2 separate regions of the Homo sapiens genome follow, and region 1 is linked to region 2. The links come from fine-mapping of genetic effects on gene expression. A gene starts in region 2. The other region holds a variant in brackets. All regions are shown on one strand. Distances are between the middles of the regions. Region 1 overlaps CELF1 (CUGBP Elav-like family member 1). Region 2 holds the start of C1QTNF4 (C1q and TNF related 4).

Region 1 (8,330 bases), 70 kb before region 2:
AGGTTGTGGTGAGCCAAGATTGTGCCACTGCCCTCCAGCCTGGGTCAGTGAGAACCAATCTCTTCCTGCGCTCCCCCCCGACCCAAAAAAGGCTAAAATTAATTCTGCTTTCAATATCTTCAGTAAATAGTCTGGTACTAGTGGAGATAAACTAGTAATTTTAGAGATGTTTCACAAACTTGTTACTTGGCTTGCTGTTCTTTACCACCAATAAATGAACTAGAGGGCCGGGCGTGGTGGCTCACGCCTGTAATCCCAGCACTCTGGGAGGCCAAGATGGGCGGATCACGAAGTTAGGAGATCGAGTCCATCCTGGCTAATACAGTGAAACCCCATCTCTACTAAAAATACAAAAAAATTAGCCGGGCATAGTGGCGGGCGCCTGTAGTCCCAGCTACTCCGGAGGCTGAGGCAGGAGAATGGCGTGAACCTGGGAGGCGGAGTTTGCAGTGAGCCGACGTCGTGCCACTGCACTCCAGCCTGGGCGACTGAGAGAGACTCCGTCTCCAAAAATAAAAAATAAAATAAAAAATAAATGAACTAGTACAGTTGATGGTGATCTGCAAAACCAAAATCATATAGTTATTTTCATAAGGAAATTCTAAAATGAAAATGGGTTAGACTGATTCATAATTTAATAATCTCAAATAACAAAGTGTGCTAATAAAATAGACAAATATTTACTACAAACCCACAATGTACCCTATACCTAGACTCTAGAGTCATACCACTGCTTTCTAATCCCAGTTTTGCTGCTTACTAGCCAGGTAACTGGGGAAATTGTTTAACTTCTTCATAAATACCTCTGTTTCTTCATGCACAAAATGGTTACACAAACAGTATCTACCTTACAGGATATTTGTTAGAATTAAATTTATACATGTAAAGCATTTAGAATAGTGCCTGACACATAGAAAGTGCTCAATAAACATTTGCTACTATTATTATTCTGGGCACCAAGCTTGGTGTTTATGGTGGAAAAGAATGAGTCCCAAAAAATTTCAGCCTGTTACATGATGATTCTATCTCTTCAAAATAAAGTACCTGATCTTAAGATGTACTGTACAACGCTCAATGGTTATGTTACTCAAAGACAACAGGTTCATCTGTTTACTGAGCTAGAAACATAGTGTGTAGTTTCACTTTTTAAAATGCAACAGCTATGCTGATTTTTTTTTTTTTTTGACACGGGTTTTGCTCTTGTTGCCCAGGCTGGAGTGCAATGGCATGATCTCAGCTCATCACAACCTCCATCTCCCGGATTCGAGAGATTCTCCGGCCTCAGCCTCCCGAGTAGCTGGGATTACTGGCATGTGCCACCAAGCCTGGCTGATTTTTTTGTATTTTTAGTAGACACGGGGTTTCTCCATGTTGGTCAGGCTGGTCTTGAACTCCCGACCTCAGGTGATCTGCCTGCCTCGGCCTCCCAAAGTGCTAGGATTACAGGTGTGAGCCACCTTGCCCAGCTGAAATTTTTTTTATCATTAACACTTGAAGTAGGCCGGGCATGGTGGCTCAAGCCTGTAACCCCAGCACTTTGGGAGGCCAAGGCAGGTGGATCACCCGAGATCAGGAGTTGGAGACCAGCCTGGCCAACATGGTGAAACCCCATCTCTACTAAAAATACAAAAATTAGCTGGGCATGGTGGTGGGCGTCTGAAGTCCCAGCTACTACTACGGAGGCTGAGTCAGGAGAACCCGGGAGGCAGAGGTTGCAGTGAGCTGAGATTGTGCCATTGCACTCCAGCCTTGGTGACAGAGCAAGATTCTGTCTAAAACAACAACAACAACAACAACAAAACGCCAGGCACAGTGGCTCAGGCCTGTAATCCCAGCACTTTGGGAGGCCAAGGTGGGTGGATCACCTGAGGTCAGGAGTTCGAGACCAGCCTGGCCAACGTGGTGAAACCCCATCTCTACTAAAATACAAAAATTAGCCAGGTGTGGTGGCATGCGCTTGTAGTCGCAGCTACTCAGAGGCTGAGGCAGGAGAATTGCTTGAACCTGGGAGGTGGAGGCTGCAGTGAGCTGAGTTCGTGCCACTGCACTCCAGCCTGGGCAACAGAGCGAGACTCCATCTCCAGAAAAAAAAAAAAAAAAGCAAACTTGAAGTAATAAAATAGGCTTCATTTATTTAAAAAAAAAATTGGGTACCTGAGATTATTCCAAAATATTTCCTAGCAGGAGGGGGAAGTGAATAGGTAAGAATTCTGGCAGCAATAGGCTGACAGATCTTGCACCTCCAACTGGGCCTGTTAGAGTCCAGTATATCTTCATTATGGATTACCAAACCACTTGTTCTGAGAACACTTATTTATGTATAAACATTTATTCATTCCTTCCATCAAACCAAAAAAAAAATTTCTTTCATGAAGCTTTCAAAATGGACACACTGGAAAAATATAAACTAATAAAATGAGACCAGGGAAGTTATAAATTTTAAAAAAGGCCAAGAACAAAAAGAAAGCTAGAATATAGGTGTGCTAATCAGAGTGTCACTTACTGAGGCTGAGCTGTAAAATCAAAGAGCTGCCACTGATTTTAATCTCCAATGACAGGCTCTACATAGGGTGCACAATGATTCATAGTATAAATGGGAAAACATTAGGACAGTAAAATGAGAAGGGCACTAAGAATAGCCAAGAAAGAGAAGATGAAGCAGATATAATGCCACACTCAAAAGAATTTGGAAAGTCAGTAAATATACAGGATCCAGGAGAGGCTAAGCACCAGGTCCTAGACCCTAAACAAATAAGCATCCAAAACCTACAATGCACAAGGTGCAGAAGAGATCCCTAAGTGATTCAGAGCCAGAATACATCAGTGTATAGTCACACAGAACTCTGCATCCATACCACACAGCCACAGAAGAAGCTGCCTCAATCAAGGTGTTTCTCCAGCATTTAATAACGTCCTTTCCTCTCCTCATTGACTACAGTTACAAATAGTATGGGCAGAGAACTGTCTCATCCCCACTCAGCTGACAAGTTCTATTCCCAACACTGCATGCTTATGACTCATGAGGGGATGGGGGAGGGGAGTGAAAGGAAACTGTAAAACAAAGCAACAAACTTGAATTTAGACTTACACTGACCAGGAGTAAGAATTCATCACTGTTTAATTAGAATATCTCATAACAAACCAAGAAAGTATCCTTTTAAAATACAGTAACAAACCCAGTATCTTCTGAAAATAACCTGAAATTTGTCTACATGTCATGTCTTCTGCTATTCCTTAAACAGACATGACACCAAAAGGCATTACAAGGCCTCTGTAAGGCCAAACTTTACAAAGCACTCAAACAGCGCAAACAGCATAGGTTGCTGTGGGGCCCAAAGCAACAGGGCATTCCCCACAGTTCCTTTCCTGGCAGACAGCGAAGTCAACACACTTAACCCCTACTGCACTCTTTCAAGATGTGCACTAAATCATTTCTTAAAGGGGTGGAGGTGCCTCATCTTTTTATACTCAAATTTTATGTCAAAAAATTTGAGTGCCAGGAAAGGAATTCAATACCACCCCAAGAGCTGATCTTTGTGACCTGTAACAAAACAAAGAGGAAAAAAAAAACACTACCACTTCAACAAGGTATGTTTCTAAGGGAACCCAAAGACCATTTCTGACATCACATTTCCCTGTTTGGTACCCTCTCGCCAAGACGGTATTTTGTTAAATACAAATCTTGTCTCCTCACCCCATCCCTAACAACCTGAAGCATTCTCTACAATTTACAATTGACAAACCTGAACACAGCAAAACAACAAAGACAAACGAGTCACCTCTTTCACTTGAAAACCTCAGTCCTCCACAGAGACGCACACAGACAGACAGATGGATGCACGTAAGAACACAAACTGTGTGCCCTGGCTGAGTCCTGAGCAGGTCTGAGCCGGTGCGGGTGCCAAAGGGTGGCCACACGGCCTAGCTAGTGGGCTGCTCCTGCTGTTGCTGTACAAATATAGCAAGCTAAAAAGTGGAACAGCAGCTTCAGCAGAACAGATTCTGCTCCGTGCTCAGAGAGGGAGGAGCAGGGAACTGAACAGCTTTACCCATACATGGTTGCTGAAAGGGGGCCATTAGTGAAAGCCCAATTATCTCACACACATGCATTCTGTTCACATGCTCCAGACAAAAAACAGAAACACACAGGCTGGTACTTGAAATAAGGTTTGAGATATTCTATTTCAGTCAAGGAACTTCCAAATAATTTCAGTCACTGACACCAAGAATCCCTCAGCCACGGGAAATGGAAAAGACATTTGAAAACCTTTACTAGGTCAGATTCTTCCCAGATCAGCAGTAGTGGTGAGGCTCAATTTATCATTTAAATCCTAAAATTTAACATGCAAAAAAAGGTTATTCTCCATTCGAGTGAACAATGTTAACTTTCACTAGTTCCTTGCTGCTTTCAGAATGAAGGTCTCATTCCAACTGTGTATGTTTTGAGCTCTTTTTTATTTTATGGTTGATACAAGTTAAAATAAACTCTAATATAATTTTTAAAATCTATGTCTGAGGATGATGGCTTATATAACCAGAAGCCAAATATTTGTGTTCCAAAAATTATTTTACTTAGAACAATTCATTTAGATTCACTTCAATGTGAAGTATGTGAAAAGCTTAATTGCTGACCAGAGTGAATTTTCCAACAATAAGAAATGCATGGCTGATTGGCTCAAATGATTCTATTCTTCAGCCCTTACTGAAGTACTTAGTGCATACCACCTATGTAATTTTATTCCCCCCTTA[T/C]AGAGATGGGGTTTCACCATGCTGCCCAGGCGGGTCTCAAACTCCTAGGTACAAGTGATCCACTCACTTCGGCTTGCCAAAGGGCTGGGATTACTGGCATGAGCCACCAAGCCCAGCCTGGTTATGTATTTATTCGGTATCATAGGGGCTACAGCACAAATCAAAACCATAGTATCAGTGACCTCCAATCTAATTCCTAGATGAGATTAACATGAGATATTAATAATAAAGGCAGACAGTACATGACTACTGCACTAAAGCGTGGGGTACAAACTATAAATGCTATACACATTAAGAGAAGAGAGGCTGGCCTTGATAGCTCACATGTATAATCTCAGCACTTTGGTAGGCCAAGGTGGGTGGACCACTTGAGCCCAGGAGTTTGAGACCAGCCTGGGCAATGTGGCGAGAACCCGTCTCTATCCACAAACAAACAAAAAAACAAACAAAAAAAAAAAAGGAAGAAAGAAAAGAGAGAAGAGAGACTGAGAACAGACAGACCTAGACTTTCTTGCTTATCCCACCTACCAGAACTCTCATTAAGGGCACCTGCGCACCAGGAGTGGTAGCTCACGTCTGTAATCCCAGCACTTTGGGAGGCCAAGGTGGGCAGATCACCTCAGGTCCGGAGTTCGAGACCAGCCTGACCAACAGGGAGAAACCCCGTCTTTACTAAAAATACAAAATTAGCCAGGTGTGGTGGTGCATGCCAGGTGTGGGGGTGGCTGAGGCAGGAGAATCGCTTGAACCTGGGAAGCGGAGGTTGCCGTGAGCCAAGATTGTGCCATTGCACTCCAGCTTAGGTAACAAGAGCAAAACTCTGTCTCAAGGAAGAAAAAAAGAAGGCACCTGCGATATCTTAAATGTGAAGAATACAGAATTTGAACAAGATGATTTCTAAGATCCCTCCATTTCTGAAACTCTGAGTGTGGTTTCAACCTGAAATGTTTCATAGTATGAGATTAATACCACACTGCTTATGGAAGCAAAATTATAGTTTTTGCCTACTTTAGAGAAAACATATTCTAAACTAAGATAAAAATAAATTCAGACCATAACTCAGCATCCACTGTAACATTTCTCATGTAACACTTTCAGGAAAATGTTCTTCCATCTGAGACATTTCTGCCTAGCCTGTTGAATAAATTTTAAACCACTATTAAGAAAAAACAAAAACAAAAACCCTGTCACAGGGAAATAGAATGGTGGAACTAGAAATGTTTATGCTGATATAACTATGAGATCCTTGATTATAAAACACTGCTAAGTTAACCAGTCATCAAAAGGAGTTCCAGGCCGGGCAGTGGTGGCTCGTGCCTGCAATCCCACGATGGATCACCTGAGGTCAGGAGTTCAAGACCAGCCTGGCCAACAAGGTGAAACCCTGTCTCTATTAAAAATACAAAAATTAGCTGGGCGTGGGGGCGCGTGCCTGTAATCCCAGCTACTCAGGAGGCTGAGGCAGGAGAATCACTTGAACCCAGGAGGCAGAGGTTGCAGTCAGCCGAGATTGTGCCACTGCACTCCAGCCTGGGCGACAAGAGCAAAACTCCGTCTAAAAAAAAAAAAAAGCTTCAAAGAAAAAAGCACTGCCTAGCTCCTATCCATTACTGAGTACACAGCAGGATTCCAGCAGTAGAGGCACATTCATGTCCCATAAAACAGACATGCAAGTATTCAACATGTTATTAAAAGCCTCTTAACACTAAACATAAGGAGACCTCATCTCTACAGAAAGAAGTAAAAAATTAGCCGGACATGGTGGCACGTGCCTGTAGTCCCAACTACTCAGGGGGCTGAGGTGGGAAGATTCCTTGAGCCCAGGAGGTCAAGACTGCAGTTAGCCGTGATCGTGCCACCGCACTCCGGCCTGGGTGACAAAGTGAGACACTGCCTCAAAAAACAAAAAAAATTAAGTAAAAGCCTCTTAAGTAAAAGCCTCTTAACTGGGCCACATGCAGTGTTTCACCCCTGTAATCCCAGCACTTTGAGAGGTCAAGGGAGAGGATCACTTGAGATCAGGAGTTCAAGTACACCCTGGGCAACACAGACCCTGTCTCTACAAAACTTAAAAAAAAAATTAAGCCTCTTCATTGTATATACTGGCTTATTCATTGTATATACTGACTTCATTGTATACACTGTATTTAATTTTTTAAGAATCTGAGCAGTCCTATTACAGCAACTTTGACTTCCCAAAGAGCAGTTTACTGTGAATTAATATGCTTTTTTCGTGTTTAAGATCACAGCTTTAATTACCTGTATGTTCTCTACTAAAAATACTTGTGTGAAGGCAACTAAGTAAAAATAACACAAAGCAGGCCAGGTGTGGTGGCTCACGCCTGTAACCTCAGCACTTTGGGAGGCCGAGGCAGGTGGATCACCTGAGGTGAGGAGTTCAAGACCAGCCTGGCCAACATGGTGAAACCCCGTCTCTACTAAAAATACAAAAATTAGCTGGGCGTGGTGGTGCATGCCTGTAATCCCAGCTACTCCGGAGGCTGAGACAGGAGAATGGGTTGAACCCGAGAGGCGGAGGTTGCAGTGAGCCAGGATCACACCATTGCACTCTGGCCTGGGTGACAAGAGTGAAAATCTGTCCCCCATCCCCCCACCCCTCCCAAAAACAAACACACAGCAATACACCACAGTTGTGTACATGAAAAGGAATTGCTCCAAGTATAACCTCAAAATCAAAATGACTATAAACACGTAAAGTATGGCCTTTGATATGTCAGTTCTCCTCCCTTATTTCCTCAAGAGAAATACGGGATTGGACTAGATCGGGGTCCATATGTATGGCCCATTGACATTTCATAAATTCAAAAAACTTCCTTATACTATGTGTAAAACTCTACCTCTGTATGCATTTATAAGGAAATGGATTCACAACTTTTACCAGATTTTCAGTTTAAGGACTCAAGACAACAATATACAGTTATTCCATCTCACATTTTTTTAAAAAGTTAAAGTTTGGCCAGGCACAGTGGCTCACATCTGTAATACAAGCACTTTGGGAGGCCGAGGTGGGAGGACTGTTCATTGAGGCCAGGAGTTTGAGGCTGCAGTGAGCTATGATTGTGCCACTGCACTCCAGCATGGAAAAAAGCAAGATCCTGTCTCTTAAAAAAATAAAAATAAAAATTGGGAGGTCGAGGCAGAGGTATCACTTGAGGCCAAGAGTTTGAGACCTGCCTGAGCAATACAGTGAGACCCCATCTCCACAAAAAAACAAAAGCCACAAAAATTAGCCAGGCATGATGGCACCTGCCTGTGGTCCCAGCTACTCAGGAGGCTGAGGCAGGAGGATCATTTTGATTCCAGGAGTTCAAGGCTGCAGTGAGCTATGATCACGCCACTGCACTCCAGCCAGGCCAACACAGTGAGACCCTGCCTCAAAAAAAAAAAGAAAGGTAAAGCTTCCAGCTTTTACTTTTATATCTGTCTCCCAGGCTAGAGTCCAGTGGCAGGATCACAGCTCACTGCAGCCTCAACCTCCTGGGCTGGAGTGATCCTCTCACTTCAGCCTCCCAAGTATCTGGAACTGAGTACAGATGTGTGCCACCTCACCCAGTTTATTT
Region 2 (8,330 bases):
GCGTAGACTAGGTAGCCGCTGAAGGTGGCGCCGGGCGCGCCTAGCGCGTACTGCGGGGCGCCATGCAGCCGCAGCCACACTGTGTCGCCGTAGTCGAGCTGCAGCATGGCGCTCTGGCTGGCTGCGCGCCGCGCGCCTGGCCGCCGCTGCTCGTCGAAGGCCAGCGCCTGCACCTCGTCGCGGTTTCGCACCAGCATCACCGACAGGCTCTTGTGCGGGGCCTTGCCAGCCGTGAAGGAGAAGAAGTAGGCGCCGGGCACGCGGCAGCGAAACTGGCCGGTGGCCACATCGAAGTCGCCCCCGATGTTCACGTACACCTTGTCGAAGGTCACCGCCATCTCCGACGTGCCCTCCAGGGGGGTGGTGCGTGCCGCCGAGAAGGCCGAGCGCAGCTCAGAGGATCCCGGGCCGGGGGTCGGGCCCAGGGCCCAGCAGGCCGCTGGGCCCAGCAGGCCCAGCAGAAGCGGCAGCATGGCGCCTGGGAGGGAGACGGAGGGGCGAGAGTGGAGTGTTGGCAGGGGCGGCTTCCAAACGCCCGGCTCTCCACCGGGAGACAAGGGTTCTCTTCCCAGCCCTGCCCTTGACCCACAAGTAGGTTTCAATTTTCCTACATCCTTGGATTCTCAAACTCTAGCGAGCCTCACTGTCACTTGGAGGGCGTGTTCAAACATACATAGTTGGGCCCCATCACCAGAGTTCATTCAGTAGGTCTGTGATGGGCCTGATAATTTGCATTTCTTTGTTTTGTTTGTTTGTTTTGAGATGGAGTCTCGCTCTGTGAACCAGGCTGGAGTGTAGTGGCACGATCTCGTTTCACTGCAACCTCCACCTCCCGGGTTCAAGCAGTTCTCCTGCCTTAGCCTCCTGAGTAGCTGACATTACAGGTGCGCACCATCACGCCCAGCTAATTTTTTGTATCTTTAGTAGAGACGGGGTTTCACCATGTTGGCCAGGCTGGTCTTGAACTGACCTCAAGTGATCCACCTGCCTCAGCCTCCCAAAGTGCTGGGATTACAGGCGTGAGCCATCGCGCCTGGCCTTGAAACCCCGCCCCCCCCCCTTTTTTTTTTGAGACGGAGTCTGGCTGTGTCGCCAGGCTGGAGTGCAGTGGCTTGATCTCGGCTCACTGCAGCCTCCACCTCCCAGGTTCAAGCGATTCTCCCGCCTCAGCCTCCCAAGTAGCTGGGACTACAGGCTTGCACCCAGCACACCCAGCTAATTTTTGTATTTTTAGTAGAGACAGGGTTTCACCATGTTGGCCAGGATGGTCTTGATCTCTTGACCTTGTGATCCGCCTGCCTCGGCCTCCCAAAGTGCTGGGATTACAGGCGTGAGCCACCGCGCCCGGCCGAAACCCCTTTCTTAAGTGAAAGCTTGAACACAGACTAGCAGAAACACTCTGGTTAAAGAGGCCTACAGCCCTGTCTGCTGGGCTTGCCCCTACACCTCCCATTTGACACTCAGGGGCCCTGGTAACCCGGGGGATTCAGGGGAGTCTCTGAGTTCCCCTCAGCTCCAGTTGGCTGCATTTTCCTGTGGTTATTTTATGGTCCTTGGTCTGCCACTCACGCAGGCACTGGCTCTCTGTGTCAACGCTCTGCATGACCGTTACTGTTTAAGCCCCATCTGAGCAGGAAAGGAAATCGCTGCTCCCTGACCCCTTTCCTGGCCTCACCAGGGGCCCTTCCTGCACAGAGGAGGCGAGAACAGTTGGGCTTTGAGGTAGCTTCCTCCCCCTTGAAATCAGAGTAAAAGAGAAGGTGACTCCTTTCTCTTTGCTTGGAGGCTGGTTACTCAGAAGAAGGAGTGGCGAGCCAGGGGCTACTGGGGATGGACAGGGACAGCAACAATTCCAGCAGGGCTTTGGCAAGGCTGTGAAGTCAGCAGCTTTGTTCCTTGGGAGTGATGGATTGGAGAGGACAGATAGCCAGATCTGGGTTCAGGTCCTGGCTCTACCACTCACACTGTGAAACCTTGGGCAGGTTCCCTAACTTCTCTGGGCATGGCTTCCTCCATGTAAATGGGGAAGAGACCTCACACACAGGCTTGCTGTGGGGGTGTGCTGAGATAGGTGTGAACATGGTTTGTCAACGGCAGTGCTGAGGTGTGCAGATGCTTCTGTCGGTTGCCCTGACAAAAGTGATCTGGTCCAGTTCTTGACGTAAGGGTTTAGGGACTCAGTCACTCCTACCCCTGAGAGCTTGGTGAAGGCACTGCTTAACTCAAAGGAGTCACTCTCTGATGTAGGGATTCCATCCTGCTTCCTAGTAGGGCACGTGCTTTGGGGCTTGAATACCCAAAAGCCCTGATGTGGAAACAAAACAGGAAAGAAATGAGCTGGAGACAGCCTGGGATGTGGGCTGCTTTAGAAAATGCCCTGTATGTGTAGCTCTGTGTCTCTTAGAGACAGCAGGGACCTGCTGAGAAGGGTTGTCAGGTGTAGATGTGCAGAACGTCCCAGCTAGAATCTAGCTCACACTCCACATGTTAGAGCAGCACCTGGCGTAAAGTATGCCACCTTCTCATTCTCATACTAAAGACCCCAAGTTGCTAGCCAACTGAATGCTGTCTCCTTCCAGAGGAGGTGCTTTTTGTAATTCTCACAAAGGTGTCCTATGGATTAGTTAGGTGTCCCTTGGTTAGGACAGGGAGGAGGGAAGGGGCCATCCACAGTGGTGAAGATGGCACCTCACAAGTGTCCAGTGCATTCCCTTTTACAAAGTTCTTTTAGACACATGGTCTTGGCAAACCTACAAGACAGGTGGGCCGTCTCCCATTTTATAGATGAGAAAGCTGAGGCCCAACAAGGGAAAGCATTTTGGCCCAAGGTCACCCATGGAGCACTGAGGTTTTTTGACTCAAATTCCGTATGCCTTCCTGTCACTCTTCCCTCCTAGACACAGGTATGTCCAGCCAATTTGTTCTGTGCCTCAGTTTACCTTTTTGCAAAACTAGGAGAGGAGATCAGAGGAATGAGTCTTGGGATCCAGGGTGAGGAAGACAGAAAGCAAAACCAAACAAAAGCAAGCAAACACATTCTCTAGTGTTTTGTCTTCTGGGAACACGGAAAACAGCTCAGCTTTTCCATACCGCTGCTTTCCTAGTGGGTCCTGCCCCAGAAGCAGCTGCCCAGCAACCTCCTGACCAAGGCTGGTGCACCCCACCAGTGCCAAGGGTCTTCCTGTGCACCCAGTACCCAGCCTCCGTTTCACCCACACTGCCCAATTCCCAGATCCCTGGATCCTCGTCCTTCCCTGAACCCCCTTCCCTGAGCAGGTCAGAGGTGTGGGAGGGTGTGTCAGGTGGGTGTCATAGCTCCAGGGAAGGAAATGGCTGTTCCTGGCTCTGTCCAGGTGGGGTTCAAAATAGTCATCTTCAAAGAGAAAAACTGGGACACAGAGCTGGAGAGACCCAGAGCCCCGGAGCCAAGGCGGGAGGTGCAGCGATGTCAGGCTGAGGGGATCGCAGAGTTCCCCCTTGCCCTGCCACTCACCAGTTAACCCTTCCCTCAAGCCCTGCCAGAGCCCCCTCCCCAACCTACCTTGAAAGCCCCTCATCCTTCCAAGAAGTCCCACTTTCACAGAAGCCAATTAATCCTTATTTTTAAAAAACAAAAACCAATCCCTCTCCCCCGAGACCTTCCCTCCATCCATCCATCCCTTTGGAATGAAAGCCCTTGTGCCTGTTTCACGAAAAGGCTCCCAGGTCCTCCTTTCAAGGAAAAAGGACCCAATTTCCCCGCGCCTCCCCAGCCCTCGCTTCCAGTAAAGGGGGAACCTCGGCTCCCTGCCTCCCCTCAGCTGCCCTCACCTGGCTGGGGGCGGCGGTCGAGTCGGGTTCGGTCTGAGCCCGCGATCTGGCTCCGGGCTGCGGGCTGCGGGCTGCAGGCTGCAGGCTGCGGGTGCCGGGCTGCGCGCTGACCGCCCGCGCTGCGGCAGGGGCGGCGGGGGCTCCGGCTGCTTTTCCCGGCTCTGAGGCGGCAGCGGACAGGGTGCTGGGGCCAGGGGCCGGGCGTGGGGAGGCGTGAGGGAAAGGGAAGGTCAGCTAGAGAGGGAGCCGAGCGAGAGCGAAGAGGCGGGGGAGAGACGGGAGGGGGAGAGGAGGGGAGTAGGGGAGAGGGAGGGGCGAGCTGCGGGGCCTAGGGGCTCCGCACGGAGTCTGCGCCGAGCACTGGACCCTTCCTCATCTGTGACCTCCTTAGAGCTTCGTCCTCTGGGTCTAGAGAGCAGGCATCATTAATCTGAGCAGTTGGGGAAACTGAGGCCAGAGGCAGCAGCTAACGCGGGGTGGCCCAGAGCGCTCTACAGTCCAGCTTCCTTCCTAGTGTGGGGAGAGAGGGCTAGAGCTGGACTCAGAGGCTGGACTAGCCTTTGGGCTGCAAGGACAGTGGAAGGTGAGATTTTGGCTGGGACAGATGTCCAAGCTAAGTGGCCTTGGGGGAGAGGTCTGAAGGAAGAGAAGGATAAATGGGTCAATGTTGCCAGTAAAGGAAGAGCTGAAAATAACCTAGTTTTTCCTCCTCACCTCCAAATTGGAAAATGCCCACGGTCGGTTAGGAAAGAGGGAGAAGGGAGTCTGCAGGCATCAGAGGGGCAGCCTGCGTTCCCCGGGGTGAGGGGCAGTAAGGAGGAGAGTCCTTGGGGCAGAATGGAATTTTCTGCTGGGAAGGTTGCTCCTGCAAGAAGGGACAGGATTGAGAGGGCAATAGGTGGGGAAGAAAGGCCTCTGGAGAGGGAAACTGATGCCCTGCCTCGCTGGGGCCAGGCTAGCAAGAGTCCAGCAGGGCACCCGGGCTGGGAACAGCGGTCTTCCCATGGTAATACTCACCAGAGGCACTAGTGCTGGCCTCTACTCTGGGCTTCGAGCCCGTGGGATGGGGGCTCAGACTCCCTTTCTCTAGGCTGCTGTTCTCTCCCCTGACGGCTGTAGAGGTGACGACACTGCCTGGCACTCAGTAGATGCTGACTGAGTGGATGACTTTTGAAGAGCTCTACTTTCAGCAGCCAAGAGCTGGTGCCCTCTGCCTGGCCCTGGTTGACTCCAGAGCCATGGGCTCTAATTCTGCCTCTGCTGCAGGTCTGCTCTGTGGTCCCTGAGAGGCCTGGACCCCTGCAGAACCCCCGTCCTCTGGAGCTTTCCTTTTGGAGCTCTCAAAGTTTACCCCACCCCAGTTAATCTATTTGTCTCTAGGAAGATGTTGGTAGAGGTGATTGGCTCTGCTTCAAGGGTGTTAGGTGAATGATGGAATGAATTAACGAATATGTGCCAGAATAGAAAGGAATGAATGGAGGTGTTTTGGGCTGGATAATGAGGGTATTTGGTGACAGAGGGTGAAGCACCTGTCTAGCCCTTGTCAGATCACAACTGTCTCTTTCACCAACTTGAAAAGCTTGGGCCACAGGACTGTGGGGAGGACAAGAAGCAGGGTAAGGGTGGGATGAGCCACACAGGGATGTCGAAGGAGAGCTGGGGGATGCCAAAAGCCAACCTATGGCAATCTATGGCCCTTCTTAGGGCCATGGGCCCCTTCTGGATGAGAAGAGTGGAGCTGCTCTCCTGAGGGTGATTCCAATGGTGGGAGGGGAGGGGAGGGGAGAAGGTATATTATAGGATAATATAATCTCAGTTGAGGTTTGGTTCAGGCTGGGATTTGACACTCCCTGGATCCACAAGAGTTCTCACCAGAGAAGTGAGGGTTGAGGTAGAGATGGGTGGCTGGGGCAGATGACATCAGGATTTGCATCAGGGGACTGGGATAGGGAGGAAGCCACTGGGAAAGGGATATAGAGAAAGATGATGCCATGAGCTGGTGGGTGTAAGGCAGATGGGTGGGCTCCAGAATGGGAGTTAAGAAGAGGTGGCAGCAGGATCCAGAGAAAAGCCCTAGGCTGGTTATAGTCCCTGCTCCCTCCTCTCTTGTTTTGCAGCCACAATTTTATTTATTTTTGAGAGAGGGTCTTGCTGTGTCACCTGGGCTGGAGTGCAATGGTATGATCTTGGCTCACTGCAGCTTTGACCTTGCGGGCTCAAGTGATTCTCCCACCTCAGCCTCCCAGGTAGCTGGGACTACAGGTGCAGGTCACCATGCCTGGCTAATTTTTTTTAAAATTTTTTGTAGAGACGAGGTCTCACTCTGTTGCCCAGGCTGGTCTTAAACAACAATTATTTTATTTATTTTTTAATTGAGACGGGTATGGCTGGGCATGGTGGCTTACGCCTATGATATTAGCACTTTGGGAGGCCAAGGTGGGAAGATCGCTTGAGCTCAGAAGTTTGAGACCACTCTGGGCAACAGAGTGAGACCCCATCTCTCTCTCTCTTTTTTTTTTTTTTTTCTGAGACAGACTCTCGCTCTGTTGCCCAGGCTGGAGTGCAATGCTGCGATCTTGGCTCACTGCAACCTCCGCCTCCCGGGTTCAAGCGATTCTCCTGCCTCAGCCTCCTGAGTACCTGGGATTACAGGAGCGCGCCACCATGTCCGACTAATATTTTGTATTTTTAGTAGAGACGGGGTTTCACCATGTTGGTCAGGCTGGTCTTGGAACTCCTGACCTCGTGATCCGCCCGCCTTGGCCTCTCAAAGTGCTGGGATTACAGGCGTGAGCCACCGCGCCCAGCTGTCCCCATCACTTAAAAAAAAAGTTAAAAAAATTAACATTAAAATATATATAAATTGAGACGGGTTCTTTTTTCTTTTCTTGAGATGGAGTTTTGCTCTTGTTGCCCAGGCTGGCGTGCAATGGAGCAATCTTGGCTCACCGCAACCTCCCGCTCCCAGGTTCAAGTGATTCTCCTGCCTCAGCCTCCTGAGTAGCTGGGATTACAGGTATGCACCACCACCCTGGCTAATTTTGTATTCTTAGTAGAGATGGAGTTTCTGCATGTTGGTCAGGCTGTTCTCAAACTCCTGACCTCAGGTGATCCGCCCGCCTCAGCCTCCCAAAATGCTGGGATTTCAGGAGTGAGCCACTGCGCCTGGCTGAGATAGGTTCTTACTCTGTCACCCAGGCTGGAGTGCAGTGGCACGATCTTGGCTCATTGCAGCCTGGGCTTAAGTGATCCTCCCCCGTCAGCCTGCCACCACGTGGCAGCTAATAAACAACAATAATTTTTATTTATTTTTATTTTTTGAAATGGAGTTTCACTCTTGTCACCCAAGCTGGAATGCAATGGTGCGATCTCGGCTCACTGCAACCTCCGCCTCCTGGGTTCAAGTGATTCTCCTGCCTCAGCCTCCTGAGTAGCTGGGATTACAGGCGTATGCCACCACACCAGGCTAATTTTTGTATTTTTAGTAGAGATGGCGTTGGCCAGGCTGGTCTTGAACTCCTGACCTCAAGTAATCCACCTGCCTCGGCCTCCCAAAATGCTGGGATTACAGGCGTGAGCCACGGTGCCCAGCCAACAACAATAATTTTAATAGCAGGTTCCTTTCACTGAGTGTAGTAGATGCTGTCAGTGGCCCACCCACACCTCCAGGCCTACCAGGAGGGCACCCACAGACAGTTCCTGACCAGGCGCCTACTTCCTGTGTCCCTCCTGAGGGCATTTTCAGCTATGGGAGTTAGTGTGGGGCAGGCCCAAAGGGCTGTAGAGTTAATACCCCCAGAGCAACCATCAGCCAATGGTCCAGAGTTAGGGGTAAATACCCCAGCTTTCTGGTCCCTCGATGGGAGCATTCCAATTCCCAATTCCAGGTCATGTTTCAGACTCAGAGAGACTCCAGCAGAGTTAAGTTCTCCATGGTGAAAACCCACTGGTATCTGTGCGCTTTTTTTTTTTTTTTTGAGACGGAGTCTCGCTCAGTCGCCCAGGCTGGAGTGCGGTGGCGCGATCTTGGCTCACCGCAAGCTCCGCCTCCCGGGTTCACGCCATTCTGCTGCCTCAGCCTCCTGAGTAGCTGGGACTACAGGCGCCCGCCACCACGCCCGGCTAATTTTTTTTTTTGTATTTTTAGTAGAGATGGGGTTTCACTGTGTTAGCCAGGATGGTCTCGATCTCCTGACCTCGTGATCCACCCATCTTGGCCCCCCAAAGTGCTGGGATTACAGGTGTGAGCCACTGCGCCCGGCCTATCTGTGCACTTTATTCTGTTTCCTCTCTTTGTCTCATTTCCCCGCTCGCTCACTCCGCTTCTTGGGATCACAACTCTCTCCTTCACCAGCTTGAAAAGCTTGGGCCCCAAGACTATGGGGAAGACAAGAGGCATGGTAAGGGTGGGATGAGCCACACAGGGATGCCGCAGGAGAGCTGGGGAAGGCTGGAAGCCAACCTAGGGCAGCCACAACCCTTCTTAGGGCCATGCAGCCCTTCTTAGGGCCATGTGTCCC

What was found.
Region 1: its variant is fine-mapped to the expression of C1QTNF4 in whole blood (INTERVAL, PIP 0.97).

The regions. Positions count from the first base shown.
Region 1 is chr11:47,520,745-47,529,074 of GRCh38, forward strand. The region is part of intron 1 of CELF1 (CUGBP Elav-like family member 1); the gene reads right to left. Among named protein-coding and RNA genes, the nearest start is that of CELF1, 28 kb to the right of the region's middle. RefSeq lists a silencer at 4,094-4,153. The variant T/C (reference allele first, on the strand shown) is at 4,750.
Region 2 is chr11:47,590,338-47,598,667 of GRCh38, forward strand. C1QTNF4 (C1q and TNF related 4) reads right to left here and starts at 4,074. Exons shown (of 2, transcript NM_031909.3): 1 at 3,811-4,074; 2 at 1-478. The coding sequence starts at 473.